Linked DNA regions of Homo sapiens: region 2 is linked to region 1. Evidence: fine-mapped expression QTL. A gene starts in region 1. The other region holds a variant in brackets. All regions are shown on one strand. Distances are from middle to middle.

Region 1 (8,329 bases):
CACCCAGGCTGCAGTGCAGTGGAGTAATCACGGCTCACTGCAGCCTCGACCGCCTGGGCTGAAGTGATCCTCCCAACTCAGCCTCCCAAGTAGTTGGGACTATAGTGCACATGCCACCATGCCTGGCTAATTTTTATTTTTTTTTTTGTAGAGATGGGGGGGTCTTGCTGTGTTGTCCAGGCTGGTCTCAAACTTCTGGGCTCAAGCAATCTGCTCACCTCGGCCTCCCAACTTGCTGGGATCATAGGCGTCAGCCACCGAGCCCGGCCTCAGGATGCTTTTTTAGCCATTTCCTGAGTGCCTGGGCTGATCCCTGGGGCTCCCAAAGAATAAAACATTATCACTGCATTTAAGGAGCTGATAATAGCTTCTGAGCAGGGTACTGAGGGATAAACAGGAGCTCATCAGGGGCCAAGGAGAAGGGTGTTCCTGGTTTCTCAATCAATCCCCAACATCTTGTGAGGTAGGACCTGCCTGTCAGGCTCCAGTGGAAGAGCTCAGGAAGAGACACAGCAACAGAGAACACAGCCCTCCAAGGCCAAGATCAGGCTGACAGCAAGTGTCTGAAAACCAGGTGGGTCATGCCACGGGGCCTCTCACTTTCCTCAGGCTGCAGCTGGGAGGAGACAGATAGAGGGCAAGCCTGAGTCACAGGCCCTGGCACATGGGCCATGTTGGGCTCAGGTGAGGTGGCACCAGTGCACTGCTCAGGTGCTGCAGCTCCAGGCAGCTTAGGTCTTCCCCCAGCCTCCCCAGGCTCAGGTGGGCGGAGGCTTGGAGACCCATGGCCTAGCAGTATGTGGTTGGCAGGAGGCAGGCCTTAGAGTGCGCCCTGGCAATCTGAGAGGGCTTCCTGGAGGGGGTGAGAGGAGCTAGGGGTGGGCCTTCCTGACTGAGGAGCAGTGGGCCTTTCTGCAGGGCTCTCTCTGAGCAACCCCTCCCACAAGAGGGTGGTGTCAAGCCCCAGGCACTGGGCCGGGCCCTGTGACACGCAGCTTCCTCACAGGCTGGCAGGATGGCCAGGCTCGTTGGGCAAGTGCCTGGAGGGCCCGGCCTCGTCACCGTAAGGAAGTGACCTCACTCAGGGAGTTTCGGAGAGGTGCCCGCATCCTACTCCAGCTGCTGACAGCCTCACACAGCTGGGCTCCGGTGCCAAGGGTCCAGGCAGCTGGACAGGGCAGCCAGTGTCCCAGGCCAGATGTTTGGGCACCCAGACTGTACAATGCCTGCCCAGGGGTGGGGGCCCTTGGCTCAGGCTCTGCATGAATCCTGGATGTGGCCCCTCAGATAAATATCAGTAAACCCGGTTTGGACTGATGCTGCCTGACACCACCAACTCGAGGCAGAGCCCCCTCCCCATCCTGAGAAGCAGTCACAGAACATCAGGGCTGTTTCCTGCCCCGAGCCACAGGGTGCCACAGAATCGGGGAAGCTGTGGATGTGGCCGCACTGGCCACTGTGTAACCTGGGTGAGTCACCACCTCTCTGAAACCCCCACCCAGTGTTCCCTGCAAACCCAAGAAAGCAGTCTCAACAGGGAGAAATGACCGCACAGAACTAGCACGGGGCAGGGCCACACGGACTCTCCTGCCGGTGCCTGGCCCTGGCATCTCTCCGGCAGGTGGTTCCTCCGCCTCCAGCACGTGAGTGGTCCAGAACCCTCGTAGAAGCAGGTCCCATGGGGTGTGGCCGAATCCACGCCGGGTTCCAATCTCTGTGCTGTGCTGGAGAAGCTCCCAGGCTCTTGGCTATCAAATGGCTCTAGGAGGGGCATTCCTCAAAAGACCCTCATGTGGGGTCCCTGTGTCAGCACTCTTCTGCCTCAACATCCCTCCCCCACATCCCAGGAAGTGAGTGTCACAGCCCTCATCCTCCAGAGGGGACCCTCAGGCAGGCCTGCTCTGGGGGATAGAGATAGGGTCCCTCCTTGGAAAGGTGACCTTGACAAGTCACTGCACCTCTCTGAGCCACCCTTTCTGCATCTGCAGCTTGGGGCCAGTGCTTCTCCTGGGGGCACCGCTCAGCCCCAGGTGGGACCAGGTGAGGCGGTGAGGCTCAGGCCTCAGGCAAGGGAGGCCGAGCGGGGGCTGGCAGAGGGCGGGTGGCTCAGAGGGGCAGACGGCAGTGTGAGTTAGTGGTGGTGGTAAAGCCCCTCGGGTGGATGGTGGACGCAGAGAGGATGGGGCAGCCCCTGTGTGCAAGTACCTGCCAAGTTGGCATGGTGTCCTCCAAGCCCCTCTCACCTCCTAAGGCCGTGGTTTATTTTTGCCCATGTCCATAAAGACACCCTGGGGGCTCCTGAAGTCACCTGCTGGTCCAGGGCTGGTAAGGCTTGGGAGTCGGCTCCCTCCAGCCCCCACATTGGCAACCAGGTTCAGGCTGGTTTGGCCGAGCAGGGGCCCAGGGTGTCTAGCAGCTGCTGGGGAGGCCAGGGCCACTACAACTGAGCCCCTGGGGCAGGGACTGTGGGCAGAGAAGCTGCCTGGGGAGGCCTGGCCTCCAGGGCTCAGACCTGATTTCCAGCAGCCCCTAAAGGGCCATCCACCCCCATACCCCCCAGGTCTTCACAGTGTCCATGAGGGGAATAGCAGAGAGGGGCTGAGTGGGCAGGAAATCCCCTAGGGAGGGCAGGGCCTCTGAATCTCGGCTGCACACCCTGCCCCCTGGCCTCCCAGCTCCTGCCCCACCTGTCAGAGCATCACCCCTGGGTTGTAAGTCCTGCCCCCAGGGGAGTGAGTTTCCCAGCCTCCCTTGAGAGGGCCACTGGGGTACAGGCAAAGAGAGGAGCTGGGCGGGGCTGGGGGAGCACACCTCACCTGGCCTCACCTGGTTTCCAAACCCTCTTCCTCCCCCTCATTTCTCTCAGCCCCTTATCTGCTCCTGCCTGTTCTCTGTCCCTTCCCCAAGGCCCTCTCCATCCTGAACCAGTTTCCTCTTCTGTGGAACAGGGGCTGGAGTGCCCACTTTGGGGAGTTCTCTGGGTTAGGTGGAGGCTGGGCACAGTGGTGGCATACGGGCACCACTGGCCCTTCAAGGTCTCCTTGGAATCTTCGAGGGCACGCCCTCCCCACAGAGTCCTCCAAGCTGTCCTCCTGGCCTCCAGTACCCCCGACCCCTATCCCCATCCTCATGTACCTGCTGTGCCCCTGGGGTTTAGAGGGATTCCTCTCCCCTCCTCTGGGGTCCCAGCACCAGCCAGGCCTGCAGGCACACAGTAGGTGCTTAAGCAACCACGAGTGTCGGGGGATTTGCCTGGAGCCGAAGTTCCACTGGCTGGCCCCTCAATGGGGTAGGCAGGCTGGTGGGCCTGGAGGTGTTCCAGGCACCTGTGGGCTGGCGCAGTGACAGAGCGCTCTGCCCCCGGCCGCTTCTCCTGGTCTCCCACTGCCCAGAGGTGCCTCTTGCCCAGGTCCCACTGTCCGGCAGCCCAGGGCCCTCTGGAAGCAAAAGAAGGGACACCAGAGTCCGAATCCTTCCTGCAGCCTCTCCGGAACAATGCTCGAATCCCCTCTCCCCGCCAAAGGCTGACCTCCCCTCACCCACCCACCCTACCTGCTGCTCCCTCACCACAGGATCCCAGCCCTGCTGCAAGGACAGGTGTCAGGTAGGGGGCAGTGTTGACCCGCCGGCCCCAGGCAGGTGTCTCACTCCCAGGCCAGAACCCTGGCACAGCCCAACCCTGCCCTCTGCCGGCACTGCCCCTCCACACCACATCCCTGCCCACTGCCAGGTCCTCTGGCCACACCGGTGGGACCACCGGGCAGCTGCTACCTGCATGCCATTCACAGAACCGGGTCTGGGGCGCTCCTCTGAGCCGGACGTCTCTTTATCCTTTACAGTGACCCTGAAGGGCAGGTGGAGGTAGGGCTGGTCCCAGGTCTGGGTTTTACGCTCTGCTGCCACTGTCTTGACATTTTAAATACATTTTGAATCAGGGGACTCTCGTTTTCATTTTGCGTGAGCCCCGTCATTGAGGCCAATTCTGACCCCAGAGTTGGGACTTCCTGCTGTAACCACCCCAGGGCGCAGCTAGGGGGCAGGGGTGCGGGAAGGTGGGAGACGTGGAGTAGTAGCCGGGGTCTCTGGGGTCCTCTCGGCCGGCTCCACCCCCACCCCTGGGAACCCGGGAAGAGCCGGCTTTCGCTTCCTGTCTATTAAACCCTTTAAAGGAAGAGGGTAAATAAAACCGCCCGTCTGCCCAGCTGGAAAGCGATGACTCAGCCGCCCCCGCCGACCCTCGCCCCCAGGCTGATCCCAGAGAGCGGGCGTCGCGGCCCAGCCCGAACCCCTCAGCTCCTGGGACCTCTCTCCGGTCCGGGTCGTGGGGGCGCGGTCGGAGCAGTCCGTACCCCAGTTCGGGACACTACGAGGGCGCAGGGAGGAGAACGGGCTTCCTCTTCCCCTTCCATTTTCTGAGCTCTATGGGTTGCTGGTCTAGCCCTTTCCACGTGTTCCCTAATCCAGCAAAGGTTACTGTTCCCATTTCACAGAAGCGAAAACCGAGGCTAAGAGAGGTGGTCGTTCTTGGCGCAGCCCGTGGGTGGCAAGATAGGAGCTCGGTCCGCTAGGGCAGGGCCACTTTCGGAGAGGGTCTCTGGGCGGCCCTGGGAAAGGCCCCCGAACAGGACGGAACGGCCAGGGCTCGGGAGTAAGGAAGGGGGCCTCGACCCTCCTTCTGCCCCGGGAGCCCGAGAGCGGCAGGGCTGGACTTGGGGCGCCTGGAGGGTGAAGGTCTGGTCCCGGCTGTCTCCCCACGGTGGGCCGGCCCCGGGCCCGCGGGTGCTTCCCGGGGCTCCCCGGCGTGAGTCATCGCGGGCAGGGCTGGCTGCAGCGCATTCTTCCGCGGGGCCGGCCTGCGAGACGGTGCGGGCGAGCGCCCGGGCGGGGCGGGACCTCGAGTCACCCCACGGGGCCGGACAGCTGGGGCACGGGGGGCAAGAGGAGCGCGGGCTTCTGAGATGGGAGGGGACGGCCGGGGACCGACCAGAGCGCGGACGCGACGGTGCGGGCCCGGACGGCTGGGCTTGGGGAGGGTATGGCCCGGGGCGCGCGGGGCTCAGGCGGGCGGGGTGGCCCGAGGGCCGGGGCGGGGCGGGGAGGGGCGGGGCGGGGAGGGGCAGCTATAAAGGCCGCGCCGGGGCCACGAGGAGCAGAGCCGGCGCCGTCACCGCCCGCATTGCCGCTCCCAGTCCCGCGCTCGGCACGACATGAAATCCCCCGACGAGGTGCTACGCGAGGGCGAGTTGGAGAAGCGCAGCGACAGCCTCTTCCAGCTATGGAAGAAGAAGCGCGGGGTGCTCACCTCCGACCGCCTGAGCCTGTTCCCCGCCAGCCCCCGCGCGCGCCCCAAGGAGCTGCGCTTCCACTCCATCCTCAAGGTGGACTGCGTGGAGCGCACGGGCAAGTACGTGTACTTCACCATCGTCACCACCGACCACAAGGAGATCGACTTCCGCTGCGCGGGCGAGAGCTGCTGGAACGCGGCCATCGCGCTGGCGCTCATCGATTTCCAGAACCGCCGCGCCCTGCAGGACTTTCGCAGCCGCCAGGAACGCACCGCACCCGCCGCACCCGCCGAGGACGCCGTGGCTGCCGCGGCCGCCGCACCCTCCGAGCCCTCGGAGCCCTCCAGGCCATCCCCGCAGCCCAAACCCCGCACGCCATGAGCCCGCCGCGGTGAGTGACTGCCCGCGTCCCGGCGAGCCCTGCGCCCTAACAGCCGGGACCGGGGCCTTTGGGAAAAACCACTTCAACCCCAGACGGCGGGGCGGGGGCGCTGCACCTCCTTGGGGGACCCGGCGCCCCGCAATCGCGCTGGCCCCCTCGCGTCAGGGTCTCGGGGCCCCTCAGGCTGGACCCGGACCGGCCCTGGCACAGCTCTCTGACCCAGTCCTTTCCCCACAGGGCCATACGCTGGACGAGTCGGACCGAGGCTAGGACGTGGCCGGCGCTCTCCAGCCCTGCAGCAGAAGAACTTCCCGTGCGCGCGGATCCTCGCTCCGTTGCACGGGCGCCTTAAGTTATTGGACTATCTAATATCTATGTATTTATTTCGCTGGTTCTTTGTAGTCACATATTTTATAGTCTTAATATCTTGTTTTTGCATCACTGTGCCCATTGCAAATAAATCACTTGGCCAGTTTGCTTTTCTACCATCCGGCTGTGGCTCAGTGAGACTCCTGCTGGGAGGGTGGAGGCCCAGGAATGGGCGGGCAGGACACCCTCATCCAGTCCTGCGGGGCTGGTGTGAAAGGCGCTGGGAACCGGCTTTGAATGAATAAATGAATCGTGTCATCTGCTGGGCCTGGTCCACACCCTCTTTTCCAAGCAGCCTCCCCAGAGGCCAGGAAGTGCCCTGGGGCTTGACCCTGGCTACCTTCTGCTCCTTGGTGTGTCCTGAGGAATTGAACCTGGGGAGGACAAGGGCCCTGGGTCCGAGCTGCTGCTGCCTGTGGTGGGGGAACCTTCCCCAGCAGCACTTCCTGCCCACAAACCACCCGCGCAGTCAGACCAGAAGGAATCCCTCAGCCCTCTGGCTGCCCGCCGCCAGCCGCTCCTTGCCAGTGCCCGCAGTGTGGGGCGGGCAGGGTCGCCTTTGCTTCTGGGGGAACAGGAGAGAGTTCTGGGCTGTCTCCGATGGTGGGGCAGGAGGCAGAGGTCCCTGCACCTCCAGGTACTGGCCCAGGACATTGGGGTGGAGAGGCCTGAGTGCAGCAAATCCCTGCCCCTCTTTCTGAGATAGCTGACCACGGCTTTCTGCCCTCCGGTCTGGCTGTGCTCTTTGAAAGACAGGGATGGTCTGAGACAGTTAGGGTTCAGGAAGTGTGTCCCCCACCCAGAAGGGCTCCTGGTGATGAACAAGCTGAGGAGGTGATAAGGGGTACAGGCATGACTCCTCACCCCACAATGGGGCCTTCATTTCTGGAACCTTCGTGGTTGGAGGGATGCCAGTAGGGGAGGCAGAGAAGTACCAGAATTGGACCCTAATCTCTGTTGCTAGGAGGCCGACGAAGCCTGGTAGCTGGTCTGGGCTCAGGGCGGGGAGGGTGCTATCCCTTCGCTGCATGGCCCGCAGGAGTCTTGGTGCTAGGTCCAGAAGAAACTATTGCCTGCAAGGAAGTTTCTCCCGAACGCAATTTGTGAAGCCCCTGTGCAGATCGGGGAGGGGCTCCTGCAAAAAGCAGAAAACAGCAGCCAAGGACGCTGCCTGGCTGGGCTCCTGGGCCTCCTGGCTGGCCCACCAGAGCCTCACCTGGATGGATATCCAAGGTCAAGAGGAGAGCCCTTGCCCCTGGGTGCTTCAAGCATAGGCATGATCCGGCCTGAGCTTTAGGCGAAGAGGGTGGATGGCCCTTGGCTCACTGAGGCCACTTCTTGTTTGAGGAATTTTGGAATTCCTCAAATTCTGAGGACAGTGGAATTCTAAGGTTTGGGGAGTCCATGTTTCAACAGCTTCTTTTAAAAGCAGCCCGAGGAGAGGAGGGGCGGCCTTCATGGTCTCAGGGGCAGCTGCAGACCCTCGCTGAGGCTGTGGAAAGCCTGTCCTCTCCAGATGGGTCAATCGGTCACAGCGGCTGGGCTGGCCTCCTCATGCCCAGTTCTCCTCCCCAGAGCCCAGGACCAGGGGGTGGGGGTGAGGGGTCGGGAAGTGCTGTGGTCAGGAGGCTGGGAAGGCAACGGTACATGGCCTGGCCAGCAAATCAGCTATAGAAGGGACCCCCAGTTCCCAGGCCATGGATGGGTACTGGTCCATAGCCTGTTAGTAGCTGGGCCGCACAGCAGGAGGTGAGCAGCGGGGCAAGCATGACCGCCTGAATTCCACCTCTCGCCAGATCAGCGGCAGCAGTAGATTCTCACAGGGACGAGAACCTTGTTGTGAACTGTGCACAAGAGGGATCAAGGTTGAGCACTCCCCATGAGAATCTAATACCAGATGATCTGGGGTGAAACAGTTTCATCTGGCCCACCCACATCCGTGGAAAAATTGCCTTCCATAAAACTGGTCCCTGGTGCGGAAAATGTTGGGGGCCACTGAGCTGTAGGATGAAGAGGCTGAGATAAGGGGACACCAGAGGAGTTCTGGGGTTCATGTGGCTGGCAGTGTCTGGTGCGGTTCTGGGGTTCGGGTGGCTGGCAGTGTCTGGTGCAGTTCTGGGATTCGGGTGGCTGGCAGTGTCTGGTACGGTTCTGGGGTTCGGGTGGCTGGCAGTGTCTGGTACGGTTCTGGGGTTCGGGTGGCTGGCAGTGTCTGGTACGGTTCTGGGGTTCGGGTGGCTGGCAGTGTCTGGTGCGGTTCTGGGGTTCGGGTGGCTGGCAGTGTCTGGTGCGG
Region 2 (8,329 bases), 48 kb before region 1:
GTTAGTAGGCTTCTTTCAGCAATTAGTGTGTATGTGTGGGGTAAGGAAGGTGCTATGAGATACATTTCTTAGGCAATAGAGAGCTTCAATTAAGTAGCCAAATTACAGTTGATGTTATTGTGTAACTGTTTTGGCAGTATGTATCAGAATCCATTCATGCTCTTTGACCCAGAAATGCTACTGTAGCGGTCCTGCTATTGCCATATCAATTAAGGATAACTGGGAGTGGGAAGCCATATAAGCCAAGATGTTCATAGAGACATTATCAAAGGTATATAACAGAAAAAAACACCTCATTCTTTAACAGCTGGTAAGTGGTGTTTTAGCTCTTAGAATGTTGTCCTTAAACAATTGTTATGAAGTCTGACTGTCTCACACCTTGCATTTAGAATATGTGAGAAGGGAACTAACCTCAGGAATACTGTGATTGCAGCAAACATGGTGGAGGAGCGTGAGTGGGAATGAGTGTGGGGAGGTAGACAGGGCCTGAATCAGTAGGAATGTGTATTCTGCAGAAGGTGACGGGGGACCATTGAAGGGTGTTTTGTTTGTTTTTGAGACGGAGTTTTGCTCTTGTTGCCCAGGCTGGAGTGCAGTGGCTTGATCTTGGCTCACGGCAACCTCTGCCTCCTGTATTCAAGCGATTCTCCTGCCTCAGCCTCCCGAGTAGCTGGGATTACAGGCGTGTGCCACCATGCCCGGCTAATTTTGTATTTTTAGTAGAGACGGGTTTCTCCATGTTGGTCAGGCTGGTCTCGAACTCCCCACTTCAGGTGATCCGCCCACCTCAGCCTCCGAAAGTGCTGGGATTACAGGTGTGAGCTACCACACCTGGCCTCCGTTAAAGGGTTTTTAAATCTTCACTGACTAGGGCTGGGTTTGGGTTGCTGCTGTGGTCATGGTGGTGAGCATAGCCAGCCATTGTAGGGTTTATTGCCTTTTTTTTTTTTTTTTTTTTTTTTTTTGAGACAGGGTACTTGCTCTGTTGTCCAGGCTGGAGTTCAGTGGCGCAGTCATAGGTCACTGCAGCCGCCAGGCCTCCAACTCCTGGGCTCGAGTGTTGCTTCTGTCTCAGCCTCTCAAGTAGCTGCGACCAGAGGTATCAGCCGCTGTGTCCAGCCTCATTTTTTTTTTTTTCTTTTTGTTTTGAGACAGTCTGACTGTGTCTTCCAGGCGGGAGTGCAGTGGTGTTATTTCAGCTTACTGCAACCTCTGCCTCCTGTGCTCGAGCGATTCTCCTGCCTCAGCCTCCTGAGTAGCTGGGACTACAGGTTCACACCAGCACGCCTGGCTAATTTTGTTTGTTTGTTTGTTTTTGTAGAGACGAGGTTTCCCCATGTTGCCCAGGCTGGTCTGAAACTCCTGAGCTTCAACTAATCTGCCCACTTTGGCCTCCCAAAGTGCTGGGATTATAGGCATGAACCACTGTGCCTGCTGCATTTTTTTTTTCTTTTTGGTTTTCATCTTCTTCATTAAAACATAATTTATTTTTTTTGAAAAAGACAATGTGTAATATTTGTTGTATTTTGAATCTTAAAAATAGCACGTTTTATTTCTAAACAATAAAAATTTTAAAAAAGTAGTTGAGTTAAATACAGGACAGTCATAGATCATAATTAGAACTGTTTTTGTTAAATATAGAGGGGTTTTTTTGTTGTTGGTTTTACCCTAAAGCTATGTGATTCAGTGGTTTGGGCTTTGCTCAGGTACTGAAGAATGAACATTGGCCAGTTTTCAGCTGGAACAACCGTTTAGCGAGGCCCTCAGGTGTATTTCCCACATCTGAGTTTAAGGAACTTCGTAACCACACCTGTATTATTTTACATTTAAGGACCTTTTTAAGCTGTGCATTTAGCTGTTACTTTAAATGCATTTAGATTAGATTTTGAAATTGTATAGGCCAGGCGTGTTGACTCACACCTGTAATCCCAACACTTTGGTAGGCTGAGGTGGGAGGATCTCTTGAGGCCAGGAGTTTGGGACTCAGCCTGGGCAACTTAGCCAGACCCTATCTCTACAAAAAATAAAATTAGCTGGGCATGGTGGCCTGCGCCTGTTGTCCCAGCTACTCAGGAGGCTGAGATGGGAGGATTGCTTGAGCCCAGTAAGTTGAGGCTGCAGTGAGCCAGGATTGCATCACTACACTGCAGCCTTGGTGACTGAGATCCTGTCTCAAAAAAAATGATAACTTTTTTTTAGTTTTATTAATATCAAGTTCTTCTATTTAAGAAGTAAATGCCCTAGAACACACCCTTAATATTCAGTTACAATGTCATCTAATTCTACCAATATAGAAATAATCATCTTTAAAAGTGGAATAATACTGAGTATATTACACAAGGTTTTTACACAAGCAATACATCCTCAGTGTAGAAGTAATGGAAGATACGGAATAAACAAATGCAATTAGAAAATAATCCCATAAGTTAATTTGAAAGTGTAAACACCAGTAAATGCTTTGACTTACTCTAAAATGGTTGGGCTATCATTAATGTATGTTTGTGTTGCCGAATGTATTATAAAAAATAAGGCAAATTAGAATTAATGTTATTCTGAAGTCTGGTTATTTTAGTGCCAATAAGATAATTTTATTTTATTTTATTTTTTTTTTTAGATGGAGTTTCACTCTTGTTGCCCAGGCTGGAGTGCAGTGGCATGATCTCCGCTCGCTGCAACCTCCGCCTCCTGGGTTCAAGTGATTCTTCTGCCTCAGCCTCCTGAGTAGCGGGGATTACAGGCGTGCACCACCACGCTCAGCTAATTTTGTATTTTTAGTAGAGATGGGGTTTCACCATGTTGGTCAGGCCGGTCTCGAACTCCTGAGCTCAAGTGACCCACCCACCTCGGCCTCCCAAAGTGCTTGGATTACAGGCGTGAACCACCGCGCCAGGCCGAGAAATTTTTTTATGAGTAAAGTTTGTGTGTGATGAAATGCACAGATCTGAAGTGTATAGTTTAATAAGCTTTAACAAGTGTATATACTCAGGTAACCTCAGTCAAGATCTAGAACATTTTCATCACTCTAGAAAGTTCCCTCCTGTCCCTTCTAGTGGACTCCATCCCACAGATAACCGTTGTTTAAAAAGTATATTGAACAAACATTTTTGCTTATGAATATAATTATTACAACTCTTTTTAATTTATAGGGGATAAAAACATTCAGATGGCAGATCACAGGTAAGCCAAAGTGGACTTTGTTTATTGGAGTTTAAAATTCAGTTGGTGAGCAACAGCCAAGCCATTTTTCAATAAATAATTAGAATCAAAGTTAAATGCATTTCAGCGTCTAGCTGATGGCTCATTTCTTGTGTATGTATTTGAGCACGTAAAGAAATTACTTCCGACATGAACAGTGCCTCAGACATTGACACTACAGATCTTTTATGGAAAGCAATCGTTTTGCTCTCCATGCTTTAACACCCCTGGGGTGAAGTTAGGTAATTTTGACACTCTCCTAACAGTCTGTAGTTGTCAGTGATCAAGTGGAAGATTTTGTTTTGTGGATTGAGGGTTACTTTTAGTTGTGTATATTATTTGATGTTTATTTTTTGTGAGGGAGGTGTGTCCAGGCATCTTTAAAAACTGTTTCATGGCTCATTTTACACTTGTTGTGGCTAATTTTACAAAGCCACTTTGGGCACTGTCTTAACTTGGTAAGACTGCCTTGCTCTGATCACATGAGCAGCTGACCAAACAGTAACATGTTCGTTGGTTGATGGGTTTGGTTTGAGGGCTGGGAGCAGATTTTTTGAGGAAAGAAGCTGTAGAAATGAGAGCTAAGAAGCTTTGGCTAAGGTTGGAAATAAGAACTTTGTAGGGCTTTATGTTTGGGAGAGGAGAGGGGATGTTACGTAGTAGAATATTTTTATAGCAGAGAGGACAGCCTCTGAGATAACATGCACATTGGTAGTTTTCTTCTGCCCAAATCTGACGTCACTGTACAGATACCTCTTAATATATTGAATAAGAAACATGTCCATTTGTGCTATGTCTTTGGAACTTTCTTTACAGTAATACTTTTTAAACATACTGTTGTTTTAGTTTTTCAGATGGGGTTCCTTCAGATTCCGTGGAAGCTGCTAAAAATGCAAGTAACACAGGTCAGTCCACTGCACATGGAGAGTTTGCATCCAGTATGGGGAACGTTCCTCTCTCTGGAAACATTTATTAATGCAAGTAAAGGATTCCTGTACTGCAGTGGTTTTAGGAAAGCTAGAGTAATTAAAATGAAAAATCAGTATCTCATTAACAAAAGATGTATTTATTATAGGAATTCAGACTCTACAGTAGTAAAGAGAGTAATAGTACAGTCTACCTTCTTGTAGCTACCATCAGTGAGCTTTAGTATTGATTAACAAATGACCAGTCTTTTTTCTTATTTTTGAGATGGAGCCTTGCTGTGTTACCCAGGCTGGTCTTGGACTCCTGGGCTCAAGCAGTTTCCTGCCGCAGCCTCCCAGGTAGTTGGGGCTACAGGCACAGACCACTGCTCCTGGCCATTTTTTTTTTTTTTTTTTAAGTCTATACCCTTTACTTTCCTTCCTTTGGAAAGCAAATCCTAAGAATGTCATTTTGTTCATAAATTCACAGATGTGATATTTTTCCACCATTAAAAAAAACTATATCTGTACTCCCCACTCCCTCCAAACTGTTTGAAAGCAAGTGGTGGATATCTATTTTCCTAAAACAATTCTACAATGTCATTACCAAGAAACTTAACACTGGAGCAATACCATTCTCTAATAGACAGTCATGCTCCTGTTTCCCTGGTTTTCTCAGCAATTTTTACCCCACGCCCGAATCTAGCACCTATTCAAGGATCATGCGTTTTGTTTTGTTCTAGAGTCATCTCCCTACCTTTTGCATCTTTTATTAATACATCAACATATCAGCGCTCTGGGCCACTGTTGTCTTATAGAATGCTCACAGTCTGGATTTGCCCAGTCGTTTCTTCCTGATGAGATTCAGGGTAAACATTTTGGCAAGAAGGG[C/T]ACACAGGTAACATGATGCAGTGGTCGTTGGTTCCGGAGGCACAGGGTGTTGGCTCGGCACCTGCCCAAGGACACTGAGATTGATGATTAAGACAGTGCCTGCCAGACTTCTCTGTTACCAAGGTCCTTTCACCTTGGAAGCAATCTGTCAGGCACGTGTAGATATCCTCTTCCTCTTCAGCAAACTTTCACACGGAGGTTTTAGCACCCATTCATATGTGTTTGTATATGCATGTAGTATTTATATACTACACATGTGTACACAGTTTTATATATACAAATTACGTACCTTAAATACACTTCATGTGCTTCATGTTAGTGGTTGTGTTTGCAGTTCTATTATGAATGTTTAAAATTGAGTGCCTGCTTGGTGTGTTTGACTTACCCACATCATGGGAGAATACTCGGGATGGGAGAATACTCGGGATGGGAGAATACTCGGGTATGTACTGGCTCTAAGCAAGGGAAGGGCGCTGGGTTTGGATTTCTGTATTGTGTCATTAAGAGGGAGATTGTTAAGAGTCTGTGTCATGAGCCAGATGTCTGCCACTTCATAGTCACAACTGGGTAAAAGGACAGTCACTACCTTGTCAGGATCTCATTCATTGGTTTATTGGGAAATGGGCTTATAAATACAAACAGCTTGGTATTGTGAGCTCACTACACATGTAGGTTAGCCCTAAGTGGGGTGGAATGGTCAGAAGTGCTTCCTGGAGGGAGGTGGGTTTGGGCAGAAGGACATTCAAGGCAGAGGCGAGTAGCACATGCAAAGAAAACTTAGGGAACAGTGCTGGCAGAGAGCTAGTGAGCCTTGGGCTCTCCTGGACTGTGAAGTCTATGGCACCACAGTGAGCAAGGGAGCTAGTGGATGCTCTTTTACTTTGAGGAACTGATCTCATCTCTGTTCGTGGCTTCTGGACACCACCATGGGACTTGGGGGTAGACCATGTGAACTTACATTAATGATGTCCTCAGTTGTTTAAGTCTGGTGCTTAAACAGCCACAGTCCTGGTGAGAGCCAGGACTCTCTAGGTGTTTATTCAGTAAATTTGTAACTACCCATCAGGTGATTAACCCAGAGTGTTAAATGCTCTTAAAATAAATTTTAATTATTTTCAAAACATGTTTAAGAAGTCACTGGTGTATGTATTTAGAAATTAGTAGATGTAAATCTAGGCAAAGCTAAGTAGATATGTTACTAATTTTTGACTCTTGGCTATTGTGTGTGGTGGGCATATTTTAAATATGTTTGGTCTTAACTCTTCATAGAAAAGCTCACAGATCAGGTGATGCAGAATCCTCGAGTTCTGGCAGCTTTACAGGAGCGACTTGACAATGTCCCTCACACCCCTTCCAGCTACATCGAAACGTAAGTGTGCTGTGAATAGGGTCTCATGCAATTTGGAGAAACAAAAGGAAAATAAAGGAAAAACCACTTTTCAGTTCCCCAGAACAGGATTAAATGTTTTTTTCGTTCCAAGACATTGTCTATGAGAGACAGGCACTGGGATATGAGAGGAGTGACCCTACCCGGTGCCTAGGCTGAGAGTTTGCCTGGTGGATGGAGTAGCGTGACCTGTCAGTTCTGATAGGAAGTGCACAGTGCCATCCTGTGGAGGGCTAGAGGACTTCACAGATCATCTGAGTTGGAGAGGACAGCTGGTGGCTCCTAAGTTAAACTAAGAGAACCACTCCTTCCTGACTTACCCACATGAGCCTGTGACACCAACACCTTAAAAAAAAAAAACTGGGCATAGTGCCGCATGCCTATGAGTTTTCACTACCCTCCAGCCTGGGTGACAGTGAGACTGTCTTTAAGAAAAAAAAAAAGATGGGGTCTCACTGTATTTCCTAGGCTGGTTTTGAACTCATGGCCTCAATTGGTTCTCCCGCCTCAGCCTCTCAAAATGCTGGGATAACGGGTGAGCTACCGTGCCTGGCTGACACCTTTGCTTTCTTAAGAGAGGCCTATGTGCTAGATGTATTGCACTATGAAAATGATAAGGGTGGTGATCCTAGAATCCTAGGATGGCTCTTGTCAGGACCTCTCTTACTTCTGGAAGGAATTTTTGGTTTTTGAGTTGGAGTCTCACTGTTGTTCAGGCTGGAGTGCAGTGGCATGTAATAGTTCATTGTAACCTTGAACTCCTGAGCTCAAGTAATCCTTCTACCTCAGCCTCCAGAGTAGTTGGAACTATAGGCATGCACCACCATGCATGGCAATTTTTTTTTTTTTTTTTAAAGGGATGAGCTGTTACTGGGCTTCCATCTATAATTGGGTCAGGGCTTGGTCTCCCAGGAGGCCCCACCTTCCAGCTGGTTTCCCCAGTCAGGACTGCCAGGGCTATTACGACAAGAAGGGGACATTTATTTTTTATTTTTATTTTTTGAGACAGACTCTTGCTCTGTCATCCAGGCTGGAGTGCAACTTCCGCCTCCCGGGTTCAAGTGATTCTCCTGCCTCAGCCTCCTGAGTAGCTGGAATTGCAGGTGCACGCCACCACTCCCAGCTAGTTTTTTGTAGTTTTATTTATTTCACTGTACGTTCTGGAGTAGATGTGCTGAGTGTTCAGGTTTGTTACATAGGTATACATGTGCCATGGTGATTTGCTGCACGTGTTTTTTTGTTTGTTTTGTTTTGTTTTGTTTTTGTATTTTTAGTAGAGACAGGGATTTGCCATGTTGGCCAGGCTGATCTCCAGCTCCTGACCTCAGGTGATCTGCCCACCTTGGCCTCCCAAAGTGCTGGGATTATAGGCATGAGCCACTGCGCCTGGCCTAGAAGGTGACATTCAGAGTTTGCTTTGCCCATTTAGAAGCTTCTCAGAGATTACTTAGTGGGCAAGGTGTTTTGATGTTATTTTTTTTGCAGACTAGATTGATGGGATGGGGTGATACTGAGTGGGAGTGGCAAGAATGAGAATGAGTAATGGTTTCTAGTTTTCTCGCTTTAGAAACTGGGTTGGTGGGGTGGCATTCTGTGAGAGGAACTGCTTGAGTGGGATCAGGTTTATGTGGGACTAGAAGTGGTTCCATATTAGCCATATTGCAGGAAAAGTGCCGGCAGAGGGCTGGGTGTAGTTGGTGTGAATGATTGAAGGACTGTTGGGGGCACACTAGGGTCCAGTTTGTTTAACATCCTTTGTCTAAATGACGAGTTAATGGGTGCAGCACACCAACATGGCACATGCATACGTATGTAACAAACCTGCACGTTGTGCATTTGTACCCTAAAACTTAAAGTATAATTAAAAAAAAAAATCCTTTGTCATTTTACTTCAGTTGGAAAGCTTCAAAAATTAAACTAATTTAAAATTGTATAATTAGCCAGGCATGGT

The links. PIP is the estimated chance that this variant, and not a neighbour inherited with it, causes the effect. A credible set is the group of variants that fine-mapping cannot tell apart.
Region 2: its variant is the best candidate, but not a certain one, in a credible set for the expression of PHLDA2 in whole blood (INTERVAL, PIP 0.71).

Annotation. Positions count from the first base shown.
Region 1 is chr11:2,926,243-2,934,571 of GRCh38, reverse strand. It overlaps PHLDA2 (pleckstrin homology like domain family A member 2), which reads left to right and starts at 5,152. Exons shown (of 2, transcript NM_003311.4): 1 at 5,152-5,676; 2 at 5,905-6,299. The coding sequence starts at 5,208. The coding sequence ends at 5,666. RefSeq lists enhancers at 421-1,033, 4,048-4,656, 4,657-5,266, 5,267-5,875.
Region 2 is chr11:2,974,055-2,982,383 of GRCh38, reverse strand. It overlaps NAP1L4 (nucleosome assembly protein 1 like 4), which reads left to right. Exons shown (of 16, transcript NM_005969.4): 2 at 3,147-3,177; 3 at 4,042-4,100; 4 at 6,261-6,360. The coding sequence starts at 3,164. Among named protein-coding and RNA genes, the nearest start is that of NAP1L4, 14 kb to the left of the region's middle. The variant C/T (reference allele first, on the strand shown) is at 4,992.